Homo sapiens: one gene and its partners. The protein of the gene in region 2 purifies or fractionates together with the protein of the main gene of each other region. This does not show direct contact. Each region holds a gene or a part of one and is shown on either strand. Other genes may lie near its edges. The genes, in order: EXOC3, KHDC4, SERPINB2, TRIM29, CALML5 and SERPINB5.

The links.
Region 1: the proteins of KHDC4 (region 2) and EXOC3 purify together in Homo sapiens (affinity purification with western blotting, with the first as the bait; one study listed by BioGRID). This does not show direct contact.
Region 3: the proteins of KHDC4 (region 2) and SERPINB2 purify together in Homo sapiens (affinity purification with mass spectrometry; one large-scale study listed by BioGRID and IntAct). This does not show direct contact.
Region 4: the proteins of KHDC4 (region 2) and TRIM29 purify together in Homo sapiens (affinity purification with mass spectrometry; 2 studies listed by BioGRID and IntAct, with this or other methods). This does not show direct contact.
Region 5: the proteins of KHDC4 (region 2) and CALML5 purify together in Homo sapiens (affinity purification with mass spectrometry; 2 studies listed by BioGRID and IntAct, with this or other methods). This does not show direct contact.
Region 6: the proteins of KHDC4 (region 2) and SERPINB5 purify together in Homo sapiens (affinity purification with mass spectrometry; 2 studies listed by BioGRID and IntAct, with this or other methods). This does not show direct contact.

Annotation. Positions count from the first base shown.
Region 1 is NC_000005.10:456,676-460,175, reverse strand, and holds part of EXOC3 (exocyst complex component 3), read right to left. Parts: intron 3,288-3,500; coding exon 3,170-3,287; intron 2,277-3,169; coding exon 2,151-2,276; intron 818-2,150; coding exon 717-817; intron 1-716. UniProt on the Homo sapiens protein: Component of the exocyst complex involved in the docking of exocytic vesicles with fusion sites on the plasma membrane.
Region 2 is NC_000001.11:155,914,980-155,917,413, forward strand, and holds part of KHDC4 (KH homology domain-containing protein 4), read right to left. Parts: intron 1,759-2,434; coding exon 1,646-1,758; intron 986-1,645; coding exon 894-985; intron 1-893.
Region 3 is NC_000018.10:63,890,705-63,894,204, reverse strand, and holds part of SERPINB2 (plasminogen activator inhibitor 2), read right to left. Parts: exon of another isoform or gene 3,305-3,500; intron 2,770-3,304; 5' UTR 2,761-2,769; coding exon 2,593-2,760; intron 1,585-2,592; exon of another isoform or gene 1,486-1,584; intron 1-1,485. UniProt on the Homo sapiens protein: Inhibits urokinase-type plasminogen activator. The monocyte derived PAI-2 is distinct from the endothelial cell-derived PAI-1.
Region 4 is NC_000011.10:120,117,614-120,121,113, forward strand, and holds part of TRIM29 (tripartite motif-containing protein 29), read right to left. Parts: intron 3,053-3,500; coding exon 2,960-3,052; intron 709-2,959; coding exon 610-708; intron 1-609.
Region 5 is NC_000010.11:5,498,197-5,500,819, reverse strand, and holds CALML5 (calmodulin-like protein 5), read left to right. Parts: upstream 1-1,249; 5' UTR 1,250-1,381; coding exon 1,382-1,822; 3' UTR 1,823-2,123; downstream 2,124-2,623. UniProt on the Homo sapiens protein: Binds calcium. May be involved in terminal differentiation of keratinocytes.
Region 6 is NC_000018.10:63,475,802-63,479,757, reverse strand, and holds the start of SERPINB5 (serpin B5), read right to left. Parts: upstream 2,801-3,956; 5' UTR 2,713-2,800; intron 1-2,712. UniProt on the Homo sapiens protein: Tumor suppressor. It blocks the growth, invasion, and metastatic properties of mammary tumors.

The DNA of each region.
Region 1 (3,500 bases), on a different chromosome or scaffold from region 2:
AGATACAACCCAAACGCAGACTTGGCATCGGATGACCCCACGGAGTCACCGTGCATGTGTCTCTGACTTGATGGCACTGCAGTGGCTTCAGAGAGGGTCGCAAATACCATGCCACAGCGCCCGGGGTTTGCCTGAAGGTACTTCAGCAGAGAGAGTGGAATGGGCAGGGGAGAACAGATTAGGCAAGGGGGCTTTGGAGGGGATGGCTTCTGGACTGCACGATGGGTGAACACAGTTTTTTAAACTCTTTTCCACATCTGTATAGGTTTGAAAATTATCAACAACTCATGGGGAGGGTGGCGTGCCAGGTCATGGCTGCCTGGAGCCCTTCTGAGGAGGGCCGGCTCAGCCGAGGACGCCCTCCCCACTACGAAGTAGGCACTGCGGCAGGAGTCGCCACCCCCACCCCAAGGAAGTTCAGAACAGGCAACAGGAGGAGCCTGACTCCAACAGAGTTGGTGTCATCCGGCGCATCGCTAAGGACGTCACAACACATCAGCTCTGGGAGCCCAAGGGGGTGTGTGGTCCACTCAAGGGGAAGATGATCCAGAAGCTCCGCTCCCTCCCTTTGCTTTTGAAGAACACAGGAGTGACACGTGGGGAATCTACCGGCTTAATTTCTTCTTAGTAACAGGCATAGTAGGATCAAAAAATTTTTGCTTCTAATTTTTAAAAACATTCAATGTGTACATTAGCACACTGGCAGAAAGACATACCTGCTTAGGAAAGAATTCATCTGCTGAAGACATAAAACTAGTACCTTTGTTTTCAAATCTTCACTTATCTGAGCAGCAACTTGAAGATTCTGTTCAAACATCTAAAAATCAGAGAACTTATGAATTCTGGTATAATCTTACAGGAGTATACTAAGAGTGCAGGTTTGCTGTTATATGAAACCTCCATCTGCTAACTGGCATTTAGGATAGTCCAAATTCAGAGAAAAAAAAAATGAAACCACGTGAAAAATAACAAAGTTAGTTTAAAAAAAAAAAAAACAACTTTCTCACCTGGGAAAGTACCAAGTGACTCATTTCTTAATTCCTGGCAAACTGGTTTCTCCCACGGGGGCCATGTCTGTCCTCACACTACGTGACTGGAGTTTTAATGTGTGGAGTGAGGCCCCACCCGGGATGGCGCCCCTCAGGCACCTGACTCACCCTCCCTGGCCCCATGACTGTCATGATGCAGAGTTCCTAAGAATCTGGACCTGGGGTGTGCCAGGCCCTGCCAGGAGCTGACCCAGGCAGAGGAAGGGCAAGGGGACAGAGCTCTCCTCACAGTTTCTCACGGCATCTGTTTCCAAACAAAGGAAAGGGTTTGGACTAGCCTGTCAATAACTAACGGTATCATTCAGAGAGAAATGTCACCCGCCAGCCCTCACTCCTGCCTAACTAGAGTCCTGAGTGAGGATTCTAACACAACGGGGCTCCATCCCTCAGCAATGCCACTCAAATTAAAACACATGATGTGCCAAAAGAAAAAAAGAGCAGGAAAAACGGGACACAGGGCGGTCGGACACTGGAAAGTGAATCCGTGGTAAGAACACACCGGTTCTAACACCTAGTGAGGCTTGGGCGTTGGAAAGTGAATCCGTGGTAAAAATGCAGGTCGGTCTAATACTTAGAACCTTAACCAATGAACAGGAAAGCAACTTTAAAAGCTAATGGACGCCTTGACCCAGGAGGTAGAGATTGCAGTAAGCCAAGATTGTGCTACCGCACTCCAGCCTGGGCAACAGAGTGAGACTCCGTCTCAAAAAAAATAATGGACGCTCCCAAAATCCACCTGTTTAAACTCAATCATGTGCCATTTTTTAGGACAAATCCTGGATATCGACCAAACAAACTCACATTTGAAAGTCGCACATAAATAACATACAATTAGGCTGTAGTCCAAACCCATAAAGACCAGGTCAGAAAAGTAAAGTGACCTTGGGCAAAACTATTTGGTAAGTATCATCCCAGGTTTCTGCAGCTCCAGAGAGTAAGAGACAGAGAGAGGAGAGGACTTAGATGCACCAGGCAGGGCTCTCAATATTTTTACTACACTCTGTGGATGAAGATCCCAGGTATCTGTGTCACTTTGTAAAACCTACAGGTCCCACTATCCACCTAGGAAACGGAACTGTGCCAGTCCCCTGCAGGTGGTACCTGGAAGACAATGGCAGGGAGTGTGGTCTGGTAGTACCCGTCCTGGTCGGCTTCTGGCTCTGTCTCTTTGACCCAGTCTTTCTTGTCTGTCTCCAGCGCTTTCCGCAGCCAGGCGATGATGTTTGACTAAAGAAAGTTCAGCATCATGGAGAAGAGAAGAGAGAAGAGCAGGTGCCTGAGGGTCATGCCAATTACCTGGTCAGTTGCATGCACAAGCTCCACAAACCAGACACAGGGCACCAGCGTCCTCTTTCTCAAATGAGGACTCCAGAGCAGGGACCCAGGAGCCACCCCCATGGGAGGCAGTGACCACAGCAGCCCGCAGGGGTTTAACTGGAACCCTTGGTACAGATAAAGAGGGAGAAGAAACTAGATGCCCTTTTGGCTGCACCTCATGCTGGAGGACAAGGCCGCTGAATCCCAGGTGCACAGAGAATGAGGCCGACCAGGTCCGGTCAGGCCTGTTCCCATGCCCAGACTCAGCAACCACAGCAGCTCACGTCCCAAGAGAAGACAGCGCTCCTTCCCCAGCTCCTGAGGACACCTCGGCTTCTGGTCATAATGCTGCCTTGCTAGGTGGACGCACCCTTGTCTAAGAAGCAGACCCTGCTGACCTCCTCTTCTCACTCTGAGACCACCTGGTGGTCACCAGGCTGCAAATGGACTCGCCCTTTGGTCCTTGACGGACCCCCCCAACCATGGGACTCAGAGCCGAGAGCCTGGCAGGTGCTGCCACACACGGTTCAGACGTTCTGGGCCCTGGCCAGCCTGCCGAGTAGGGCACAGGCTCACGTCTCCAGCAGAGGACAAGCTTCAGATCCAGGCCCAGAGAAGGGGCCATTCTCCTCTTCTAGCAAACTGACCTGTCAAGGCCTGGAAGCAGAGCCCGGGCAACTGAGCAATGCATCCTAGGAAGTCAACGCTAAGGCATTTCCCCCCTGCCTCCTGCCTGCTGCCAAGCCCTAGTTACTCATATAACCAGCACGGTGGTCTGTGGCACGCAGGCCAGCCCTACTCACAGTGAGCGTGGACATGTACGTGTCAAGCAGCTCAGAGACCACGTGTGGAGAAAGCAATGGCTCCAGGGTGCCGACATCCACTTCCGGGGCCAGCTCCACGTTCCTCATCATCTCAGTACTATGGGGGAACCAGGAATGTGAGTGACAAACCACGACAGACACAGAAGAGCATGCCCAAGTGTGCCGAGACTGTTTCACTTGACACATGAATGTCCACCACCCTGGAGACTTCCTGGTCACAGCCGGCCCACAGCTCAGGGGAAAGTGCAGGGCAGGGGCCGAGGGCTTTGGGGTCTCTGTGGCATCACCCCACTGGCTCCCAGACTGCGTG
Region 2 (2,434 bases):
TTCTAGATACACGTTGGTTGGAAACAAAAGGTTGTCTGTATACAATTTTTTTAAAACTATTTTCTCTCTCTCTCTCTCGGCACACGTTTGTTGGAAATAAAAGGTTGTCTGTATACAATTTTTTAGAAACTATTTTCTCTTTCTCTTTCTTTTTTTTTGAGACAGAGTCTCACTCTAGTGCCCAGGCTGGAATGCAGTGGTGTGATCTTGGCTCACTGCAACCTCCACCTCCCAAGTTCAAGTGATTCTCCTGCCTCAGCCTTCCAAGCCGCTGGAATTACAGGCATGCACCACCATGCCCAGCTTAATTTTTCTATTTTTAGTAGAGACGGGGTTTCACCATGTTAGCCACGCTGGTCTCAAACTCCTGACCTCAGGTTATCCGCCCACCTTGGCCTCCCAAAGTGCTGGGATTACAGGCGTGAGCCACCGTGCCCAGCCCAAAAGTATTTTCACTGGCCAACAGATTATAGAGGTTGGATTAAACACCTGAATGAACATCAGGTTAGAAAATTAATAGCTTTATTTATGTATTTATTTATTTATGAGATGGAGTCTTGCTCTATTGCCCAGGCTGGAGGGCAGTGGTCTGATCTTGGCTCACTGCAACCTCTGCCTCCCAGGTTGAAGCGATTCTCCTGCCTCAACCCCCTGAGTAGCTGGAATTACAGGCGCCCACCACCATGCCCGCTAGTTTTTGTATTTTTAGTAGAGATGGGATTTCACTATGTTGGCCAAGCTGGTCTTGAACTCCTGACCTTAGGTGATCTGCCCACCTCGGCCTCCCAAAGTGCTGGGATTACAGGCGTGAGCCACTGCGCCCGGCTGAGAAAACTAATAGCTTTAGACCAGTCTTAGCCACTCCCCTGTTCCCCCAGCTATATCACACTCACCATGGCTCCCTGTTAAGGTCCCAGACCCATTCCTTTCATCGGACTCTGTTTTTATTCCAGTCACTGGAAAGGCTGGTGGAGGCATCAACTGCCTATTGAAAAACAAAATGAAACTTTCTTTCAGACAATTTAAATTTTCTTAACTTATCCAGTGGATTAGAAGTGCAATTATGTCTGCAGACAATCCTTCAAATTCATTTTAACCATTAATTTCAACCCCTTCCACCTTCCCCCAGCCCCTTTATAAAAGTATAAGGCCTGTCTACACAGCAATTGCCATGACAAAAATCGAATGAACTGTTATAGAAAGATATCAGCTCCTTTCTTATGAAGGTTAATATACTAATATAAGAAAGGAAAATTCAAGCACTGTGTGGCAGGCTGAACTCCCACATTCATGTACTTCCATCCATGATATTCTAATGACTCTAAAGTAGCAAAAATAGCTGAATTATGTAACATTTCTGTTACTGTCTACCCTTAGGAAAATGGCCAAGATGCAGACAATGGAAGTCAAGAAAGATGTCTGAACAAGTAATAAATTATTCAAAACCGAATATAACTGCTTCTAAATCTGTAAAAGGCCTATCATATTTTACTTCATTGCATCAATTACAACAAACAGAAGCATATTTGATTCAAAGATTTCATTTCAGTTTCAGAATACTTAAGCTCATAGCAATGATCATTACTCTCACTAATGGTGCAAACAAATAACATCTGAATACATTTGCATAATTATTCCAACTTACCTGTCCCTCTCTCTCTCTTTGCCTGAGGAACTTGCTGGCTTCGATCCTGCACCTTCAATCTCATTCTGACTGGAGAAGCCTGTACCTAAATTAGTCATATGAATGGGTCCATGCTATGAGCAGAAAAATACAGTGGCATTAGCAAATCTACAACTGCCGTATTGACTTTAGCTCCTTAATGTAACTGTCAAGTGCCTCATCTTTCTGATAAGTTGTAGTACGTTAAACTACTACAAAGCTCTTTGGGATCTGCTGTGTAACTGTAGTCAAAAGTAGGGATTTTTTTTTTTCTCTATAGGACTTGGACAGGGGTGTTATAATTCATTATGCTATCTATGGCCTGTTTTTAACTGACTGCCCATAGCTCCACTAGTTTCTATAAACCTAGCTAGAAACTATAAAAAAATGCTTTGGTTTAAAGAATGATTCAAGGATTCTGGCAAAATGGAAAGGTACTTCTGATAAAATTGCACCAAAACTACAAATTAAGAATCTTTTTAACTTTAGTGGCTAACTTTACAATTACATGTACAGAATCACTCCTTTTCTAGCAGTCTTGAGGGGTGGGGAGACTGGAGGGAGATATCACTCTCTTTTTTAGGTGGAGGGTAAAAGAGAGAGCACCACTGAAAGCCAAGGTTTTAAATACAAACCACATACTGGTAGATCAAGAGCTTTGAGTGAGATGTATAAGAAAGTAAGAACTCTCAGAGGCTTTCAAGAGTCTGTTGAATAGGATAAAAAACCTAACCAAAATGAATTCCAGAAAGCAGAAATCCTAGTACTGGG
Region 3 (3,500 bases), on a different chromosome or scaffold from region 2:
GACCCTTAAATCAGGGTTCTTTGGGCTAGCACTAAAGCCTTCCTGAATCAGTGTTAAAGTCACTCAGGGAGATGTCCCTGCAAAAGTGGGACTGTGAGCTGCCCCTAGTCCACACAAAGGCCACAGAGAAAATAGTGAGGCAGTTTGGCCTGGATGGGTCTGTTGCCTCACTGTAAGGAAAAGAGCTTATATCCTAATTCCCACAGACCTATGCCATCCAGGAGCTTATATCTTTTATGTATTCTTTTCTTTCACTACAAATGTACCACTTCTAACAGCTACAGCAATTCTCAACTGTGTGGCCTCTTCTTGCCCTGATTCCCTCATCTGTAAAATGAGTACGGTAATCATCGTACCTACCTCATAATATTTTGTCTTATGTGAGTAAATTTATAAGAAGTTCTTAGAAAGATGCCTGGCTAAGGCACTAATAAGTATTGGTTGTTATTATAGCAACTGCTACTAAGTGCCTTACATAGTACCTCTAATCTTCACAACTTTCTTGCATGCTACACATTTTTATTCCCATTTTGTAGATGAGAAAACTGAGATGCAAATGGTTTCAATGTCCTCACACACATGTAGTAAGGAACAAAGCCATGACTCAAACACAGATACGTCTGTCCCCAAAGTCTGTGCTGCTTTCTCCAGCCAATAAATGTCTTTTTCTTTTTATCTGGGAAGCAATCATATTAACATTTGAATTTCAAAATCTACACATGCAACAGAGTTGTCAAAAGACGATATATATAGAGTCTCAAAAAAAAAAAGACTATATAGAATCCTCGCATAGTCCCAAAGGCTTAAAGCACTTCTTAGACACAGAAAAGCTGTCTTGTGTCCAGAGCAATCAGTTTATTTTCCTCTAGTACCAAAATCAAGATTTTTACTTTAACAACCCAGAGCACTTCATTTAGCATTTGCTCCCAAAATATATTGCTACTGATTCCTTTACATTTAAAAAACAAAAAAACCTAGGCCGGGTGCACTGGCTCACGCCTATAATCCCAGCACTTTGGGAGGCCGAGGCAGGTGGATCACAAGGTCAGGAGTTTGAGACCAGCCTGGCCAAAATGGTGAAACCCCATCTCTACTAATACAAAAATTAGATGGGCATCGTGGCAGGCGCCTGTAATCCCAGCTACTCGGGAGGCTGAGGCAGGAGAATGGCTTGAACCTGGGAGTTGGAGGTTGTAGTGAGCCAAGATCGCACCACTGCACTCCAGCCTGGGTGATAGGGCGAGACTCCATCTCAAAAAAAAGAAAGGAAAAAAGAAAAAAACCTAAGACCTGATGTTTCTAAAGCTTTTGTGCCAATTTACTATCTTTATTCTTTCAAGGCAAAAAATAAAAAATAATGGGGAAAGAATATTGCAAAAGACTACTTGTGTCAGGGAGTTGAGCAATTGAGTTTTGTTGTAAGTCTCAATGTTTAAACTGTCACAAACACAGAGATTGATTCACCCATCCCTTGTCTTCCTGCAGCAATATTGGCCAATGCTCTCTCTGTGAAACTTCAAACTTCAAATGAGGCCCACCTTACATGGGTCACCATGTGCATGGAAAGAATGTATTTACACTCAGGTACATTCTCGTGGGAAACTGGAAACCAGCCGGCGGCATCTTGGTGTGACTGCATGCACAATGCATGCGTGTCCTTAAAGCATTTAATGTTAATGTTTGTATGTGTGAATGCAAAGGAATTTTAATGATATCATGGCCACATCGAGGTCACTAACCTTGGAAGTAACATGATCACAAGAATTTTGTATGTGCTGAGTGACTATTACAGTAACGATTGCAGTGTATAATTGAAGTAGTCCGGCATAATTTCAAGGGCCCAGACTCCGTGGAAAGAGTTTCCTGACTGAGTCCACGTCCATTCACCAAGGAAGGCAGGCAGTGGCCTTGCAGAAATCCCTCACAATGATGTTGTGCATCCCATCTACCTTGGTTTTCAGGGCTGGCCATAATAATGCCAGGTCTCATTCTGCTACCGTGACCTCACAGGCATGATCTTCTGCAGCTACAACACTATCCATGCATCCTGTGGGTATAGTGAGCACCACCCTGGTATGTTTTTTTTTTTTTCCCTTTGTGATACTCTCTTAACATTATTAGAAGGAATTCTTCATAGGAATAGGGAACAAACACCACAGTGGCACAGTAATGGGAAGGAGCCCAGGCTAGGAGTTAGGAGACAGTGGGGGCTTCTCTGACACCACCAGGGCTCTCATCTGTAAAATGATATCTGTCTTAAAACTGAATGAGATAATGGGTACAAAACACTAACTTTGAAAAATAAGAATATTATATTATTAAAATATAAGATGTGGTCACTCATAACTGTGTCCAGCCTTGCAGGCTATTCAACTCCCATATGCCTTCAACAGCTACAGTTGAGGGATTCGGGGGCTTGGCTGTCTTATAGATTTGAATCTAAGGAATTTGTGTTGTAAGGATCAGTGCTTCATTACCTGTGATGATTGCTGACCTCCTGAGTTAAAATGTCTTTAGCATAAAACAAGAGCAGTTCTCCAATTCCATTCAGGAACTACTCGGCCCAAATGTGGAGCTTCAGCTCAAACTCACCTTGGCCATCTGGTCTTCGGTGCTGCCCCTGGAGCCCATGTAGACCATGGCCATGGTGGACGAGATGCTCCATGGGGAGAGGAAGAGGTTCTGGGTGGGGCTTGCTTTTGCCAGATGCTTGAATAAATTGAGGGCAAAGAGTGTGTTTGCCACACAAAGATCCTCCATTGTTTCAATCTAGAAGCAAAGAGAGGAAGAAAAAAACAGCTCTGAAACATAAGGTAACATTTTGGGTGAGGTCAGCAACAGTAGGACAGGCTGCATTCTGTGTAGGGACAGATTCCCTGTCTGTTCTTCCTCATGGAACAACATGAGGCAGGTCAGGGACAGCTTCATGGACATACCACCTGTGCAGCCGTAAAAAGCCCCTTGTTTAGCCAAATGCCCTCCTATCGCCATCTTGAAATTCTTGATAATTTTAAACAAAAGGCCCACATTTTCATTGTGCACCAGACGCTGTAAATTACATAGCCAGTCCTGAGATACATGAAGTGTTTTGTATGATGAGCAGCGACACTTTGTGGCATTCCATAGAATAACAATGACAATATATAGGGACAGGAGTAGGAATTGAAGCCAGATAGGCAGACCCTAGGATCATGCTCTCAACTTCTATGCTGCCCCCACAAGCACAACGCACACATCCACACCACACACACTGCCACACAGGAAGATATACACATATTGAAATATATGCCACCTGCATACATACCTTGTTGCATCTGGTAAGACGGTCAATCTTCTTTCTGCTTTCCTGCTTCTAAAGTGACTTTGACTCATTGTTTGAAGGTTTGGAGTTTCACCCAGCCCCTATCCCAGAACCCCTTCCCTATATGCACCACACATACCACAGCCTTACTAAAAAAGACTTCCTATACTGGGGTGTTCATTACTGGGAGGACTAGAAG
Region 4 (3,500 bases), on a different chromosome or scaffold from region 2:
CCAGAGTCTGGTTCAAGCCTGCCCCCTCAGGATGCCCCCAACCCCAGGGGACAGGAGGCGTCAATCACTCTGCCTTGTCAGAGTGCTGGGAGCACCACAGGCAGGCGGGGGACAGAGTGCAGGAAAAGAGGATCAGCCTTGGGGGGACTTAGGGTCGTCTGGTCCTGCCTTTCCCAAAGGGGCGCCTGCAGGATTGGATCTGCAGGATGCTGGCAGGTGCCCCATGGCCACAGGACCCTAGAGCCAGCCAACGCTGGGAGTTAAATAAACTCTGCAGTAGGAGAAGCAGCATCCTGAGGATCAGAGAGGTCGAGTGCAGGGGGTATGGCATGTCCCCCGGTCCTGACCACTGAGAGCTGTTGTTGCAGCGTGTAGTTAGAGACTAGAGAGCGGTGAAACAAGCCCTGGGAAACGCTGATGTGGCCCAGCCCCCACCCCTGCCCTCATTTTCAGCAAAGACCATGGCGGTAGCTCCCGGGCTCTCAGGCCAGGCCTCTCTCCTCCACGAGGTGAGGGAGGAACTAGCAGCTCAGCGAAGAGACCCAAGCAGGGCTTGGGAGGTGTGAGGCAGCTGTGGAGGAAAGCAGGGGCCAGGGTGGGCAAGCTCACCTTTCAGGGAGAAGGAGGAGCTGCCTTGGACGACGGGCAGGTCATTGTCAGAGTTCTGAATGCTGGAGGAGTACTCCCAGACCCGGGAGGTGTAGTTACCTGGCAGGACAAAGAAGGGCTGTCAGGCCCCCACAGCTGGGAGTGGGAGAGGAGGCAGGACCAGGACACAGCCAGGTCTATGACTCTCTAGCCGCTGGCCACAACTTAAGCCAGGATGCCACTGTGTGATCCCAGTGACGCCTCACCCCCATCCTTCTGCCACCAAAGCTATCTTTCTAAAATATAAAGCATAGTCTTGTCCCTGCCCTACCTAAAGGCCACTGTCCTCAGAATAAGGGACAAAGTCCCAAGAGCAGCCCAGAGCTCTGTCGTGAGTTGCTCCCCCAACCCCCACCACCCACCCACCATCTCCCACTTCTTGACTTCACCTCTGCCCTCCCTCCACCACTGGACATTCAAACCAGGCTAAGCCTCAGTGTCTGAGACACTCCATCTTCTCTCCTGCCCCAGGCTATGTGCCCAGACCCTGTCCTCTGCCTAGGACACTTCTCCTGCTTGCCACCCTCGGCGATTCATGGGTGGGGTCTTCAAGTGTCAGCTTACATGGCACCTCCCAACGTCTGCATGTGCCTTCAGCTTCATCCCCACATCGTCCTGCAACCCCTACCCTCTGGGTCGCAATTACATGTTCAATTGTCTGTCTCCCGCAGTGAGCTCACGTGAACTGGGAATGTGCCTGTCTGGCCCCTGCATCACACCTGGTGCCTGGCACAGAGCCTGGTTCCTGGAAGGTGCTCATTGTATGGTTGATGGATAGAATGCATGAACCAACGAACGAATGAATACAAACACATCCTAAAACTTGGGGACAAGACAGTTGATAGTTGCCAAGTTGAATAGGCTAACACATGCCTATGTGCAGACATGTTCTATAGTCCAGAGGAGAAGAAGGCAGTGGGAAAGGGGTGGGAGAAGCTGCCAGGGCACTCAGAGGGCACTGGAGTGGGGGGCTCAGAGTCCCCATGGGTGACGCACACTTCTCCAGCACCACACCCCCACCTGCCAGGCTTGAAGCATCAGTGACCTCCTTAGTCAAGCTCACTCCTTAGCAGCCTGTGGGGAGGGCTGGGGGCTGACTTTTGGGCTCAGGGGTCACAGATGGCTGGGGTTGGCCACCTGCCCCTGTGCAAAGCCCTCCCACAGGGATCCCAGGCAGCTTCTGTAGCAAGGCCTCAGTAAGCACGTCCAGCCAGGGTTCCGCGAGGCCAGACACCTTGCCCTCCTGTTCACTCATGCCTTTAGCCTCTCTCTCAACAACTGCTTCCTGACCCCCTCCTACTTTTGAGCTCTGGGCCTGTAGCAGCGAACAGGACAGACACAGCTCTGTCCTCAAGGTGCCCAAGGTCTACTGCATATGTGGAGGAGGGGTGCCGCTGATCACGGCTGTGAATCCAATTCTGGATGTAGAGGCCCAGGCATTGCTCTGGTGCCCCTGACCCTCCAGTCTCCATGAGTCTTGCCCTCACTGAAGAGTCCTCCAGTGCTATGTCTAGGGTGGGGGCTGACCCAGTCCCCTCCCTCCCTGTGCATGGCTGGCATGTGACCAGGAGCCCCCAGGACAGAACCAGGGTCTCCCAGAACCAGGTCTCATTGAATGCATGGCCCTGCCCTTGAGCAAATGGTCCCCTCAGAGCACTGGGCAGAGGGAGACCCTGAACTTAGCAGCTTCCCCTGGGGAAGCCACATCCCCACACCCATTTCATCCCATCTGGGTCTTAAGGTGCTGCTCGCTTGCCTCACCACCTGGAGCTCCAGGGCCAGCCCCATTTCCTGCCGTGCCTTCCTTTCCAGTCACAGCCAAGTTGACAACTAACCACTGTACGACTTTTCACTGCAGAAGTACTCAAATCAGTAGAGATTCTCTTTGGGTCCTCGTGCCCTCATACTTGTGGGGGGGGTGGCGCATTCCCCACACTTAAGCCCAAGGTGGCTGCTCAGACCCAGTTTTCCCCAGATCCTTCCTCAGGGATCAGAAGAGCACACAGACTCAGGGATCTCCAGGGATGCCGAGATTCCTGGCTGTTTTTCCTCCAGCCTAACTAATGGTGTCCCCCACACATGTACACACACACACACACACACACACACACACACACACACACACACACACTTTAAGCTCGGTAGGTAGGACCCCTCCCTACCCATGCCTGGACCCTCCACCCATCCTAGCTTCCCACATTCATCTCACACTGGGGTCCCAGCCCTGTGCCCCTGGACCCACCTCTATGCCCCTCCTGCCTGCACAGCCCCACATGAACTCTGTGCACCCTTGAGCTGAGCCACCACCTACCTTTGGTGCCATAGAGATTGTTGAAATTCTTCTGGGTGGTCTCCTTGGTGAAGCGGCCAGGAGACGAGGGCTGGTATGATGTCCGGACCCCACCTGTGAAGCAGATGAAGGGGGCTGTCATTGCAGAAAATTGTCTCATCAGGACTCCTTGCCCCCAAAAAGTTGCCCAAGTGCCCATCACAGGACCTGGATTCCACCACTGAGAGAAGTCCTTTGGGTCTGACATAAGTCAATCAACTAATTTATCACCCAAATTGGCATGCTTTTGAGAGTAGAAGGACTCTGTTAGTAACCGTGCAGAGAGCATCAGCATAAACTTGGAGAGGCCATGGCAACCACGAGGGCAGAAGCAGTAGGCTCTCAGCCACGTGAGGGTGGGGCCTCCTGGAAGTGGCCTAATGAGCCAGAAACACCTCCCAGGGGCCCACCCAGGCTGCTGCTTCCCGGGAGATCAGAGCCTCACTTCACAAGTGCTTTCCTTCCCGCACACCTGGGCTCTCACAACAGCCTTGTGAGGAAGCAGTGGGGACTGATACCACCA
Region 5 (2,623 bases), on a different chromosome or scaffold from region 2:
GAATAAAGGAGTTTGTTCCCTGTGTACGGGCAGGGGCTGGGGAGAAGAATGGGAATCTATGGAGATCAGAGGGGACTTGCTTGGGAAAGGCATTTTGGGGACTCCAAGGCAAATGTCCCCTCACAACTGTAGATCACATCAGTGGAAGGACTTGGGGATGGTCCCCCGAAAGCTTAGCTGTTGCTCTAAAAGTTGGTCAAGGCAAGTGGCCCTGGGGGTTTCCTTCCAGAGAACAGATCAGATTGAGGACCCCAGTAGGCTCCCAGATGGGTCTCTGTGCTTAGGGCTGATGCTTAGTAAAACCACAAGGAGGGCCAAGTTTGATGGCAGCCACCTGTTCTGCATCCTCCTGCACCTCTGCCTGCACCTTTGGGGTATGCTGGGCACTGAGGTCCCCCGTGTCTCGCTGCAGCAAAACTCCAGCTGTAACTGTTTGACGCCCTGTGAATGGAACGCCTGCCACTGAGCTCCCAGGGTGTCTGCACAGGGAACCTTGGACTTGGCGATGGAATTGAATTGTAGGAATCCCTGAGCTAGAAGGGAGTATTCTGGGGAGACAAAAAGTCTTTCCCTCTCCTCTGAAACTGCACGTCACATGTTCACTTGATAAACACCATCTCAGCACCAGCTATGGCTCTGAAGGCAGCCCTGGTCCCTTGCTTCCTTGAAGTTATAGGCAGTGAGCCCCATCCTCTGTCTCTAGACCCTGGCCTGGGAATCTCATGATACCCACAGTTGTGCCCTGGCAGAATCAACACTACCACCCACTTCCCTTCCACCAGCCCCAGCCTCAGGGCAAGAGCTAGGCAGTAGCACTGGAGAGAGGGGTACGGAAACACCAAACACTGGGGCCTGCTGTGCCCTTGAGGGAGCCCTCTTCAAGCCACCTCCCCCTCCAGTCTCAGTCTTTGTGAAGTTGCAGAAGCTGTCTTGAACCCCTTGGCTTGGTCAGGATCTCCGAGAATCAGCTGCAGGGGAAACTATCCCTTGGGCAGAATGTTCCTGGAGGGAGGTGGTTGCTATCAAGGCCAGGCGGGGTTGGCAGGCTAGCCATCCGATACCCCGACCCCATGGCAGTTCCCACCTGGCACCTGACAGCTCTCCCAACTCCCATTCCTGCATTTCCTGTCTGCAGCTGATCTGGCCCTCCCTGGGAGGAGGCTCTCACCCCAGGGCATTTGGAGGGTGGGGAGCCTCCCTCCTCCCTTTGTTCCGATTGCAGAAAAGGAGGGGGTTCCCATGCCAAGGCAGAACTGTCTGGGACAGACGCTGCCCGGATCCCTGCGGCTGCCTGCACTCTGGACCACGAGCTCTGAGAGCAGCAGGTTGAGGGCCGGTGGGCAGCAGCTCGGAGGCTCCGCGAGGTGCAGGAGACGCAGGCATGGCCGGTGAGCTGACTCCTGAGGAGGAGGCCCAGTACAAAAAGGCTTTCTCCGCGGTTGACACGGATGGAAACGGCACCATCAATGCCCAGGAGCTGGGCGCGGCGCTGAAGGCCACGGGCAAGAACCTCTCGGAGGCCCAGCTAAGGAAACTCATCTCCGAGGTTGACAGCGACGGCGACGGCGAAATCAGCTTCCAGGAGTTCCTGACGGCGGCGAAGAAGGCCAGGGCCGGCCTGGAGGACCTGCAGGTCGCCTTCCGCGCCTTCGACCAGGATGGCGACGGCCACATCACCGTGGACGAGCTCAGGCGGGCCATGGCGGGGCTGGGGCAGCCGCTGCCGCAGGAGGAGCTGGACGCCATGATCCGCGAGGCCGACGTGGACCAGGACGGGCGGGTGAACTACGAGGAGTTCGCGAGGATGCTCGCCCAGGAGTGAGGCTCCCCGCCTGTGTCCCCCTGGCTGCGCTCTGAGCCTTCAGGGCCACCGCCCGCTGCTGCTTTTGTGCTGGGACTCTCCGGGGAAACCTGGTCGGTGGATGGGAAACTGCCTCCCCCTGGGAGGAAGGCTTTGCGCTCCGGGGCCTGGATGCGGCGCCCTCGGGCCGCCTGCGAGCCCCTCTCTGCCTCCAGACCTTGGGCAGAAGGAGGCCTCCTTGGGCCTGGTCCCCCTTTGCCCTGCAGTGGAATGAGGGCCCCTCAGCCCCGCATTGATCTAAATAAAGGACTGCCGAGTTCCATGTGTGCTTGGTGTTTGTGGGGCGGCTGCCTCCGAGGGCCCCCACCTGCTTCCAGGGTTCCTTCCAGCCCACCCCTCTCACCTGCGGTGGCAGAACTGCCTGGAGCAGGCCCCAGGGGCAGCTCCTGCCTCCCCTGACGCGGAGCAGAGGGCAGGTGGGCAGAGGATGTGTGAGGATGGTGCTGGGCGGTGTCTGTGGCTCCAGGTTCTGCCTGAGCTGCTGGTGAGGACCTGGGCACGTGTCCCGCACAAACAGGAGCGGGCGCCTCGCATGGACAGACGGAGCCCAGCTGCCAGCCTCTGCACGCAGCCTGCCTCTCTTCGGCTGCAAATAATATACGTGTACGTCTGTGTGTGCATCTGTGTGTGTGTCTGTGTGTCTGTATGCGTGTCTCTGTATGTGTGCATCTGTGTGTAAGTCTCTGTATGTTTGTGTGTCTGTGTGTCCTTGTGTGCATCTGCATGTGTATGTGTGTATCTGTGTGTGTGTCTGAGTGTGTC
Region 6 (3,956 bases), on a different chromosome or scaffold from region 2:
ACTGAGTACCTAATTTGTGTCAGGGTAAGCATTAAGAAAAGGTGAAAACGACATAGCCCCTGCCTCCAAGGAGCTGTCAGTTAGTGGTATGATGACTGTTTTAAGTGTTTTGATGAGCACCCAAGTCACTATGGGATCCCCAGGAGTGACAGACCCCCCATACTAGAAACCTCAGTGACACCTCCTCAGAGACAGTGACAACTGAGTAAGTCACATTAAAGGTGAGTCCTACAGGATAAGTAGGAGTTAGCCTTGCAAAAACGTGGGACAGGGAGAACTGACTCAATTCAGAGAGGCCCCAGTGAATGGAGACGCATGTACTGGGCTGGGGGTAGGGCCGTGCTCACTTCTCTAGACTTATAGCTTGTCACTGGTCTTTGTATGAAGATTTCCTAAGTTTTTTATGCATCTGAGCCAATGGTCCTCACATTTTTTGTCTTTAGACCATTTAGGTGAGAAAAAAGTCCTGTGGGTAGGATATATACATCCCACTTTGCCTGGGACAATCCTGGTTTATGTCTGTTGTCTTGACATTGATAACAGTGCCCCGTTTACTCTCAAACATATCCTGATTTGAACAATATATGTTCATTTTACTTATAGACCATCAACCACACTCTTCACCCACACATCACGGGCGTGCATATTTAAACAGAGCTATGAGTATAGTTTTTTCATCCCTTAAAACCTTAACTTTTGGCCGGGTACAGTGGCTCACACCTGTAATCCCAGCACTTTGGGAGGCCAAGGCGGGCAGATCACTTGAGGTCAGGAGTTCGAGACCAGCCTGGCCAACATGGTGAAACCCTGTGTCTACCAAAAATATAGAAATTAGCCGGGCGTGGTGGCACGTGCCTGTCATCCCAGCTACTTGGGAGGCTGAGACAGAAAAATCACTTGAACCTGGGAGGGTGAGGTTGCGGTGAGCCAAGATCGTGCCACTGCACTCCATCCTGGGTGACAAAGCAAGACTCCATCTCAAGAAAAAAAAAAAAAAAACTACGTTTTTACTGTGTCAGAGTATCGTAGATATCATTTAGCCTGGCCTGCCTCATTTTAAAGATGGAAAGACATGGTGAAAAACATCTCTCAAGTATTTGGTATAACCAGTCCTTAGGGAATGCCATGAGAAACCTTGCCTATTATAATATCAGTAATGGAATGCCAAAAAACACAACCTCTGTTGTCCACATTCTAAGTCTTTGAGGAGCAAAGGATGTGCAGGATTAAGAAAATAGGATATTTTGAAGTTTCTGCAATGTGAAAGACTATGAGGACTAAACGAAGTGATTAAGTGAATCAATGTATATGAAAAGTGCTTTGTGGGCAAGAAAGTACAATACAGCTATTAGTAATTGCTTTAATTTCCCATGGCAGGGGGGCGTCTGCTTTGCTCTGAAGCATCATAGCTGCTCCTGTCTCTTTAGAAGCCTGATCTTGACCACTGACCCAGCCCACTGTTGCCAAGCAGTAAACTTACAGCCAGACTCAGCCACACCAGAATGGCCCAAATCGCTGAGACTGCATAGCCCCAAAGTCAATCCACAACCCAGAGGGATTGAAGTGGCACAATTCAAGGCGTTAGGAAGCAAAGATATAAACCTGCTGACTCATTTCCTTTGGAGACTCCTTTCCTCAGACAGGCTTCATCTCCACCCATGAAGGAACTCATCGAACACTTACACTAACTGACAGGGACTGAGGTTTGGAACCCATTATCGAAAACCTCCCGGGAGATGTAGGGGATGAAAAAGATGGTAACAGAACCCACGGTGTTGTGGAAACATCCCGAGCTGCAAGTGTGAAGGCCTGATTTGATCTCAGCGGTGCTACTTACAAGCTGTGTGCCTTTGGACACCAGATCACCTCTGTGAGTTCTGCTCCTCATCTACAGAATGAGGGGGCTGGGCTGAAATATGTCTAAGAGCCCCCAGCTCTGAGGATCTGGTTACAAGTCTCTGGAATAGCCTGGCATGTTGGTTTTTAGTATGATATGCTTAAATGAAGCCATAAGAAAAAGTGTACAGCATATGAGTAAGAAACTACAAGCAGCTATTACAATTTATAAGTCCAAGAATATGCATCTGAAATGTGTAACTTGTTTAAAGTTATGCTGAAACCCAGAAAACTGAAGGGAGAATAATTTCCGCTTAGAAGAATGCAGTTGCAAGTAGATGAACAGCGATCTGATGCTTAAAAATGCCAAAAAGAAGGGCAGTCCATATGCCTAAATCTCAGCCTTACAACGTCAGCCAGGGAGAAGAGCCAGCCAGACCCACCAATACTTCTCAACTTTCCCCAGTTTGCGGGTACCACACCCTTTCTGAAACTAGCATTGCAAAATTCATTCTGAGTTCCAAAGTAGGCCTGAAAATGTCCTCAGAAGTATTTTCTCCTCCGTGAATCACGGTTGCACCCCTCTACCACCAAAACCTCCGAGCCACGTGACTTCTTCATATTCTTACCTTGTATGGTTAAGTGATTTTACTCCCTCTGCAGTGTTCCTGGTGCTCAAAGGGTTGGGAGCTGGAAATACTGCCAACATGGGGGATGAGAGGCGACAGTACTCAACCCAACAGCCCGTCTTTGAAAACAGCCCCAAAATGGACCTAAGTCCATTTTGTTCACCATCTCAAATCAGCTCAAATAACGATATTTATGAATTTCCCTGAAAAAAGGAAGTCACCAGCCCTGCTACCCCACCTTGCTTACCTGGAGTCACAGTTATCCTGGAAAATGCGTGGAAAAGGAACAGGCAAGCGAGGAGCACAAAGACCTGGATGTGGAGGCGACCGTGTCTGGGCAGAAGCAGCGGTGGCTCACCTGGGCAGCACCGCCACGCCCACTGCCAGCCCAGCTCCACGCCCCGCCCCGCCCCGCCTCGGCGGCACTCCTCTCCTACTCAAGCCTCTTGGCAGCTTGTCCACAATTGAAAGAAATGATTCAGGCTGAAGTTACTGTTGTCTGCACAGCTTCCAAAAGGCCTCCAACATGTTCGGGCAGGAAGGGGCTGTGAGTTACATGCATACGTACAGACATGCGTACGGCAATCCTCTCGGCCCACGCAGGACCGGAAGGTGAAATATTCGATGAAATAAAAGTAATGTGTGATGATAGTAACACTACAAATTTCTCAGACACGTTGGTGGCACAAAAAGTACTCTGATCTCCATTCTTTTTGTGTAAACTGCAGCAGCTCATTCTGCTAGATGCCAAGAGAGGTAGCTGCCCATTAAACAGAAAGACAATCAAAAAAGAAGGAATGGATATATGTATAAACACAGTGCCTACCTAAAAATTAGGTACTATTAGCAAAATATTTACTACCAAATTGGTAGGAGATATTGTTTAATGGGTGGCGCAGGAAGTTTCTTTTTAAAATCCTGTGATTAGGATTACTCAGGCCTGGCGCGGTGGCTCACGCCTGTAATCCCAGCATTTGGGGAGGTTGACGTGAGCGGATTGCTTGAGCCCAGGAGTTTGAGACCAACCTGGGCAACATGGTGAGACCCCATCTCTACAAAAAATGTAAAACAATAGCCTAGTGTGGTGATGCATGCCTGTGGTCCCAGTTACTTGGAAAGCTGAGACGAGAGGATCACTTGAGCCTGGGAGGTCAAAGCTGCAGTGAGCCGTGAGCTAACCACTGTACTTCAGCCTGGGTGACAGAGCAAAAGAAACAAAAAGAAAAAGGAGTACGCAGCTCTGCTCTGAAATCTCTTCGTGGAGCCTGTTCTTGTCCTCCTGTCTTCCCACAGCTTCTTCATTTGGCGGGACCTACTCCCTTCCAGCCGAATCAGTCTCAGGAAAGGACCTGAAACGGAGCTGGTTGCTTCTCTGCTGTGCTTATCTAGAATTCCCTATTGTACATTTACTACATTGTTTCATAATAATCTCTTACATTCTCCTATATGTGACTACAACAATGTTAAAGGTAAGTGCCAAACTTCATTCAT